2 linked regions of the Homo sapiens genome follow. The protein of the gene in region 1 purifies or fractionates together with the protein of each later gene. This does not show direct contact. Each region holds a gene or a part of one and is shown on either strand. Other genes may lie near its edges.

Region 1 (3,909 bases):
GAACAGATTGACATCCTCGTGGCCACTGATGTGGCAGCCCGTGGACTTGACATTGAGGGGGTCAAAACGGTGAGCAGACACTATCTTCCTTGGACTTTTGGTGGAAGTCTTTTTGCCTCTTCGCACCCCCCTTCCCTTGCCAGGCCTGACGTTCATTTTTGACCTTCTAGGTAATCAACTTCACAATGCCTAATACCATCAAACATTATGTCCACCGGGTGGGGCGAACAGCACGTGCTGGCAGGGCTGGGCGCTCAGTCTCTCTGGTGGGAGAAGATGAGCGGAAGATGCTGAAGGAGATTGTAAAAGCTGCCAAGGCCCCTGTGAAGGCCAGGATACTTCCCCAAGGTGAGCAGGCACCCCTGTGGCAGTGCAGAATGGCTCGGTGGGCGGGGCAAGGACAGAGTGTAATGGCTGAGAGCAGGTACTTTGCAGTTCAGAGCCAGATTTGAATTCCAGCCCTGCTGCTTCCTTGCCGAGTGACCATGTGCAGGTTTCACCTCACCTCTCTGAGCTTGCCTCCTGTGTGTAGAAGGGAATTATGACAGAATTGTAAACACAGTGCCCCATTTAGGTGGAAATTGAGAAGAGAAGGTTGCTTGGGGCAAAATTCTCACTAAACTCCTCTTTCCCTTACTGTTGGTGGTGGGGAAGAGAGAGATCAGTACTCATTCTTTTTGGGTCCTTTCATTGATTTTGTTCCTCTGATCTGTGGGGGTCTTATAAAGCACATCCTCTTTAAAGTCTTTTTTTGTTTTGTTTTGTTCTTGAATTCCTAGGCTCAAGCAATCCACCCACCTTCTGCCTCCCAAAGTGCCGGGATTAACAGTAATGAGCCACCATGCCCAGCCTTAAAAATTTTTAAAGTTATAAAAATAATACATATTTAGCCTGAGCATGGTAGCTCTTGCCTATAACCCAGCACTTTGGGAGGCCAAGGCAGGAGGATTGCTAGAGGCCAGGAGTTCAAGACCAACCTGAGCAATATAGTGAGCTGCCTGTCTCTAAAAAAAAAAAATTAGCTGGGCATGGTGGTGTGTGCCTGTAGTCCCAGCTATTCAGAAGGCTGAGGCAGGAGATCTCTTAAATCCAGGAGGTTGAGGCTGCAGTGAGCTATGATTGTGCCACTGCACTGCAGCCTGGGCAAAAGTGCAAGACCCTGTCTCTAAAAAATGAAATGAAAAGTACGTATTTATTGTTGGAAATTAGTAAATAAAAAAAAATGTAATTCTGTGTCAAAGAGCTCACCACTGGTAGCATTTAGGTGTATGTCTTTTCAAACCATTTTTCCTTTCTTAAATGTCCCTTTTATTTTTTTCATTTTCATTGTCTTCATTTAATCAGCGACTAGTTATTGAGTCCTGCTGTGGGCCTAGTGCTATTGATTCTGTTCTAGGTGCTGGGGATACAGCAGGGAACAAAGCAGAGCTGTGGTTCTGGGAGAAAGAGACAATAAATAAGCTAACAGTAGATGTGATTGAGAACAGCAGGAGGAGACTGCCTCATTAAGCTGTTAAGGAAAGGCCTCTGCACAGCTGGCATTGGAGCTGAGTCCTGGGTGATCGGAATGAGGCAGCCATGAGAGGTCTGAGGGCAAAGTGCTGAGCTGAGAGAACAAGGGTGGAGGCTGTGAGGTAGGAACGAGCTTAGTGTGTGAGAACAAGAGAAAGGTCAGGAGGCTCAGGCGTGGTGAGCAGGGACACACAGAAGATCAGAGCGGTAGGCAGGGGCCACTCTGAGTCTGGGGGATATGAAGCAGAGAAGGCACACATTACAGACACCATTTCCTATGTCAGTAAATGCACAGCTAAATTATTTTCATCAGTTACACAGTATTAGTAGTCACCCTTATTTTATTTTATTTAATTTATTTTTGAGATGGAGTCTTGCTCTGTTGCCAGGCTGGAGTGCAGTGGTGCGATCTCGGCCCATTGCAACCTCTGCGTCCCGGGTTCAAGTGATCCTCCTGCCTCAGCCTCCCAAGTAGCTGGGACTACAGGTGCATGCCACCACGCCCAGCTAATTTTTATATTTTTAGTACAGGTGGGGTTTCACCATGTTGTCCAGGATGGTCTCGATCTCTTGACCTCGTGATCCACCCGCCTTGGCCTCCCAAAGTGCTGGGATTACAGGCTTGAGCCACTGCCTTATTTTGTTTAAGATAAGGTCTTGCTTTGTTGCCCAGGCTGGGGTACAGGGGTGCGATCATAGCTTACTGTTGCCTCGAACTCCTGGGTTCAAGCAGTTCTTCTCCTCAGCCTCCTGAGTAGGTGGGACTACAGGTGTGTGCCACCATGATGGCTAATTTTTTTTTTTTTTTTAGATGGAGTCTCGCTCTTTTGCCCAGGCTGGAGTGTAGTGGTGTCATCTTGGCTTACTGCAGCCTCCGCCTCGTGGGTTCAAGCAGTTCTCCTGCCTCAGCCTTCTGAGTAGTAGCTGGGATTACAGGCGTGTGCCCCCACACCCAGCTGATTTTTGTATTTTTAATAGAGACGGGGTTTCACAGCATTGGCCAAGCTGGTCTCAAACTCCTGACCTCAGGTGATCCACCTGCCTTGGCCTCCCAAAGCGTGGGATTACAGGCATGAGCCACTGTGCCTGGCTTTTTTTTTTTTTTTTTTTTTTTTTGTAGAGACAGAGTCTGGCCACGTTGCCCAGGCTGGCCTCAAATTCCTGGGCTCAAGCAATCCTCCCACCTCAATCTCCCAGAGTGCCGGGTTACAGGTGTGAGCCACCATGCCTGGCCTACCCTTATTTGTAAATCCTTTTTATTTTCTCCCATTGAGATGTCATCCTCAAATTCCGGGACAAGATTGAGAAAATGGAGAAAGATGTGTATGCAGTTCTGCAGCTAGAGGCGGAGGAAAAAGAGATGCAGCAGTCAGAAGCCCAGGTGAGGCTGCGAGGCGGGATCTTGTTCACAAGGCTGCTCAGTAAGCAAGCTGCTGCATCCCTGCTGGTGCTGCCCTTCTGAAATGTTTCTCCCATCAGAGCCCCAGGCATTTGCAGCCCGTGGCTTCCTGTGTTAGTAGATACGGGTTTCACGGCAGGCATCCTTTTGTTATCTCTACAGATCAATACAGCAAAGCGGCTCCTGGAGAAGGGGAAGGAGGCAGTGGTCCAAGAGCCCGAGAGGAGCTGGTTCCAGACCAAAGAAGAGAGGAAGAAGGAGAAAAGTAAGTCAGGGAGGTTCCGCAGAAATCTAAATACAGAATTACCCCACAGGACTCAGCAGTTCCATTTCCTAGTTCTATACTGTAAAGCAGCGGTCCCCAACCTTTCGGCACCAAGGACCAGTATCGTGGAAGACAATGTTTCCACATTTGGGGTGTGGGGGTTGCATTAGATTCTCATAAGGAGTGCACACCCTAGATCCCTCGCATGCGCACTTCACAATAGGGTTAGTGCTCTTATGAGAATCTAATGCTGCTGCTGATCTGACAGGAGGCCAAGCACAGGTGGCAATGCTTGGTTGCCCAATGCTCACGTCCTGCTGTGCAGCCTGGTTCCTAATACGCCATGGACTGGAACCGGTATGCAGCCTGGGGTTGGGGACCACTGTTGTAAAGGATGTAAACAGGGACTCAAACAGATACTTAGATGCCAGTGCTCTTTGAATTACTGTTCATAATAGCAAAAAGGTGGAAACAAACTATGTTCATCAACAAGTGAATGGATAAACAAAATTTGGGGTGTGTGTTTATATACACACAATGGAATATTATTCAGCCATGAAGTTCTGATACATGCCATAAGGATGAACCTTGAAAATCTTAAGCTGAATGAAATAATCCAGACACAAAGGGACAAATACTGTCTGATTTCACTTACCTGAGATATCTAGCTAGGCAAATTCACAGAGACAGAAATAGATTATAGATTACTTAGGGCTAGGGGAAGGGGGGTTAT
Region 2 (3,909 bases), on another chromosome or scaffold:
CACTCAGGGAGCCCAGGTCCTCAGCACCAAGATTAATAACATCAGTCATCATAGCAGTCATCATATCCCGTGCTCACCCCAGGCCATTTGCATCAGAACCTCTGGAGGTAGGATCCAGGCATCAGTGGGTTCCTAGCTGATGCTACCAGACAGCTGGATTGAGAACCAATGGCCTTTGAAAAGGAAATTGCTGCTACATAGCCTGGGTCTGTTCATGCTTTTCCTGTTGAGACCCCCATCCTAGGGAGGCTGGGCTAGTGTCCCCCTCTGCGGGGCAGGCTTTGCTATGCTGTGCCAGTAAGGCTGGAGCCAACCCTATCTGAGCTCAAGGTCCTGCTTGGAAAGTGTGACCACTTGACTCTTCAGAGTCCTAGTGCGGCTGCTTCCTCATCTGAAAAGTGGGACAATGATGTTGCCTAGCTGGTGGAATTTCTGTAGGAAAGTCCAGAGCCAGCCTGCTGCTTAGAGCCAGCAGGCGCCTGAGGAGTGGTCCCTGCAGCTCGCCCCTTGGCCTTATCTTGGGCAGCTGGATTTCCCCTTTGCTGGGCACTGCCTGTCCTCTGGGGTGGCCTCACAGGACCCTTTGATTGTTAGCTTTCATGTTTGCCTGGCACCTCAACGGGCCGGGCCCTGGGCTAAGTGCTCTCATGCTTTATCTCATCAAATCCCCTGTGGTGGGTGCTACTACTGTGTCCTGTCTGCAGAAGAGTAACTTTGGTAACTCAGAGAAGGCTGGGACCACCAAGTGGCAGCACTCAGGTCCCACCTCGTCCTGTCCACCCTGAGCCCCAGTGTGGCCCCCATGGCTGGTGGTTTAGTTTATCCTGTGGAGTTTTGTTCACTGCCATATCCCCAGCATCATTCCTGGCACATAGAATATGCTGGGTCATGCTTGCTAAGAGTGACTGAAGGCAGGAATCCTTACGGTCCCCATGAGATAAGCAGAGCAGGCACCGTCCCCGTTTAACAGGTGGGAACACTGAGGTAAGGAGCTTAGCAGCTCCTGGGAGTCCCACAGTGGCAGAGGCCAGTCTGCGGCCCAGGCTCCTGCCCACCCGCTCTGCACAAGGACCCTCTCAGATCATACCTAGTTCTTAGAAGGACTCGCTGTGTTTTAAAAAGGCACAACTGGCTGGACGTAGTGGCTCATGCCTATAATCCCAGCACGTTAGGAGGCCAAGGCGGGTGGATCACTTGAGCTCATGTCCAACATGGTGAAATCTCATTTCTACTAAAAATACAAAAATTAGTTGGGCCTGGTGGTGTACGCCTGTAATCCCAGCTACTTGGGAGGCTGAGGCACAAGAATCACTCAAACCCGGAAAGCAGAGGTTGCAGTGAGCCGAGATCGCTCCACTGCACTCACCTGGGTGACAGTGTGATTCTGTCTATTTAAAAAAAAAAAAAGGCACAGCCCTAAAACAGCCTCCTGTATCAATAAAGGGACATTGGCTTGGTCTTAGGAGCCAGGCCAGTCTCCTGAAGAGTACCCTTTATTCTGTGCGTACCTGATGTGTGCCTGCTGTACACAGAGCCCTGAGATGCAGACCTATCTGGGTAGGAGAGCTCTGCCCGTGGGGGCTGCAAGATATGAAGCCAGGGAGGACAGGGAGAGACCCATGCAGAGGCACCAGCAGCTGAGGGTGGGGGTCTGGTTCAGCCAGCCTTCCAGAGCAGGCAGCCTCCCAAGCCAGGCCAGCCCCCGGGTGCCCAGCCCCCCTGCGGTACCCACATCATGGCACCCTCATACTCCCCAAGGGTGGGAGCTACAGGTGGCTGGTGTCCCCCAGCAGCCTAGGACTGCACACCACTGAGTCTGAAGATTGTGGAGCCTCATTCTGGCCTCCACACTCTGCCCCAACCTCCTTCCTCCCCTCGCCCACCTGTGCCCCCGCCCCCTGCCCTTCACCCCGGCCTCTTGGAATCAGTTCTGTCTCCGACTTAGCGGAGTTTGTGGAAGCCTTGCCTATCCTGTGTCTCGGGAAGTAGCAACTCAGGAGCCTCCAGGAACAGGAAGAAAAGCCCCCATAAGTGAGGCTGCGTGTCTCCAGGGGCAGCTAGTGCACAGCCTCATCAGTTACCTGTAGGCAGGGAGGGGACAGGTCTGCCACACTCACAGGTTAGCCATTCCAGGTTCAAGAGAAACGAGAGGTGCAGATTCTTATGTAGCATCTCCCTGTTTTTGAACATTAGTCACTGATTTCTGTATTCATGGCAAATCATGTCAGCAAATCCAGACACTCTTCTGTGGGCCCACAGTGGGAGGCCCTGCTCCATCCCATTGGTCACTTTTTTTTTTTTTTTTTTTTTTGAGACAGAGTCGAGAGCTGCTGTTGCTATCATCGTGTTATAGAGGAGGGGAGCAGCCCACCCTCGTGCTCTCAGTAACAGATTCCATCAACAGCAGTAAGAATGACCAACCTATATTGACAGCTTGCCGTGTGCTAGGCACTATTGTGAGGGCCTTACATACATATATTCATTCTTTTAATACCCTCACACACCCTAGGCGTGTAGATTTCATCACCATTCAGTAACTGCAGAAACTGAGAGGAGCCCAGAGAGGTGAAGCAACTTACCCAAGGTTGCCCAGCCAGGAGCAGCAGGGTTTGATCCTGGCAGCTCACCCACCCAGCACCCTGCATCTAGCACCCTCCACCCTGTACCTCAGGCCTCTCCACTCAGAATCCAGCCCTGGGCTTCCTGGCCCAGTGCTTTTCCCCTCCCCGGACTGTTCACGCCTGCCTCATCCCAGGGTTCCTTTCAGAACTCCCTTCTCCCCTTATCAGCCACGCTCTTCTCCCCCGGCTTGCCTTTCCTCAACGTCTGCTTCCAGAACAAAACCCCAAGAAGCGCTTTCTCTTGTCCTCCCGACGCACCCCCCCGCCCCCCCGCCCTTTCTCCCTGCCTGCGCCTTTCTCCCTGCCTGCCTGCGCCTCCCATGCAGGGCCGACAGCGCCAGCCAGGGAAGGGAGAGACACAGGCTGGCATTCTGTCAAGGAATTAATTGAAAAATAAAATCATTAGGTGGGAACTCCAGAAATGCAAAAATGGTGGTTGGAGGTTGGTGGGGAGGGGGGCAGGACTGGGGGGTTGTCGGGGGATGGCTGAGCTTTTTGTCAAGTTAATTTCTCGGGTATTGATGTTTGGTGACATTCACTTGTTGTTTATCTTCGGGTGCAGCTGTAATACTGAAAGAAAATGCACAGCTTGTTTCGTTTATTTATTTTACACCTTTCTCCGGTTCTGCATTATGTTTGTTTGGTGAAAACCCACTGAGGCTTTTGATGTCGGGGAAGTGGGATTTCAGCAGCTGTTCGCTGCAAACAGGGTGCTCCTCAAGGAAGCAGGGCCAGCGGGAGGTGCGGGGTGTCATTCGGTGGGAACTCGGGGCCTGACATGTCCTCCAGGGGGCAGTTGGGGGCCCAGCCTGAACCCTGGCAGATATGCCAGGCCCAGGAGCACGGAGGCTGGCTTATGATACATGAGTACATAGTTGGCAGGTAAAGGAATGAGATGTTTTGGTTCATCAAGGCCACAAAGCCAGGCTCCGCGTAAGAGCCCCCGCCCCATGAGTGCTCACTGCCCCAAAGACCAAGAGAGACACGAAGTCAACACCTTTCCTATCAATAATAGTAACACAGGTGTTGGTCTCAGCACCATCGACTGAGCCAGGGGCTGGGCATTGCCCTTTTTACTCATTTCAGCCTCACCACAACCCCTAGTATTTCCATTTTACAGGTTAGAAATTGAGGCACAACTATCTGGTTCTTTCTCCATCTCCCCCTGCCAGACCAGAAAGCCTTAGGTGGGGCCAAGCCAGGCTTGTTCCCCACCATGCCCGACCCAGAGCAGGTGCTGCAGGTGTCTCCGTCATGTGAGGGGATGAGAGCATGGATGAAGGCTCTG

Evidence for each region.
Region 2: the proteins of DDX27 (region 1) and RBM19 purify together in Homo sapiens (affinity purification with mass spectrometry; 2 studies listed by BioGRID and IntAct, with this or other methods). This does not show direct contact.

Annotation. Positions count from the first base shown.
Region 1 is NC_000020.11:49,236,163-49,240,071, forward strand, and holds part of DDX27 (probable ATP-dependent RNA helicase DDX27), read left to right. Parts: coding exon 1-69; intron 70-170; coding exon 171-348; intron 349-2,786; coding exon 2,787-2,893; intron 2,894-3,073; coding exon 3,074-3,176; intron 3,177-3,909. UniProt on the Homo sapiens protein: Probable ATP-dependent RNA helicase. Component of the nucleolar ribosomal RNA (rRNA) processing machinery that regulates 3' end formation of ribosomal 47S rRNA.
Region 2 is NC_000012.12:113,826,502-113,830,410, reverse strand, and holds part of RBM19 (probable RNA-binding protein 19), read left to right. Parts: intron 1-3,909. UniProt on the Homo sapiens protein: Plays a role in embryo pre-implantation development.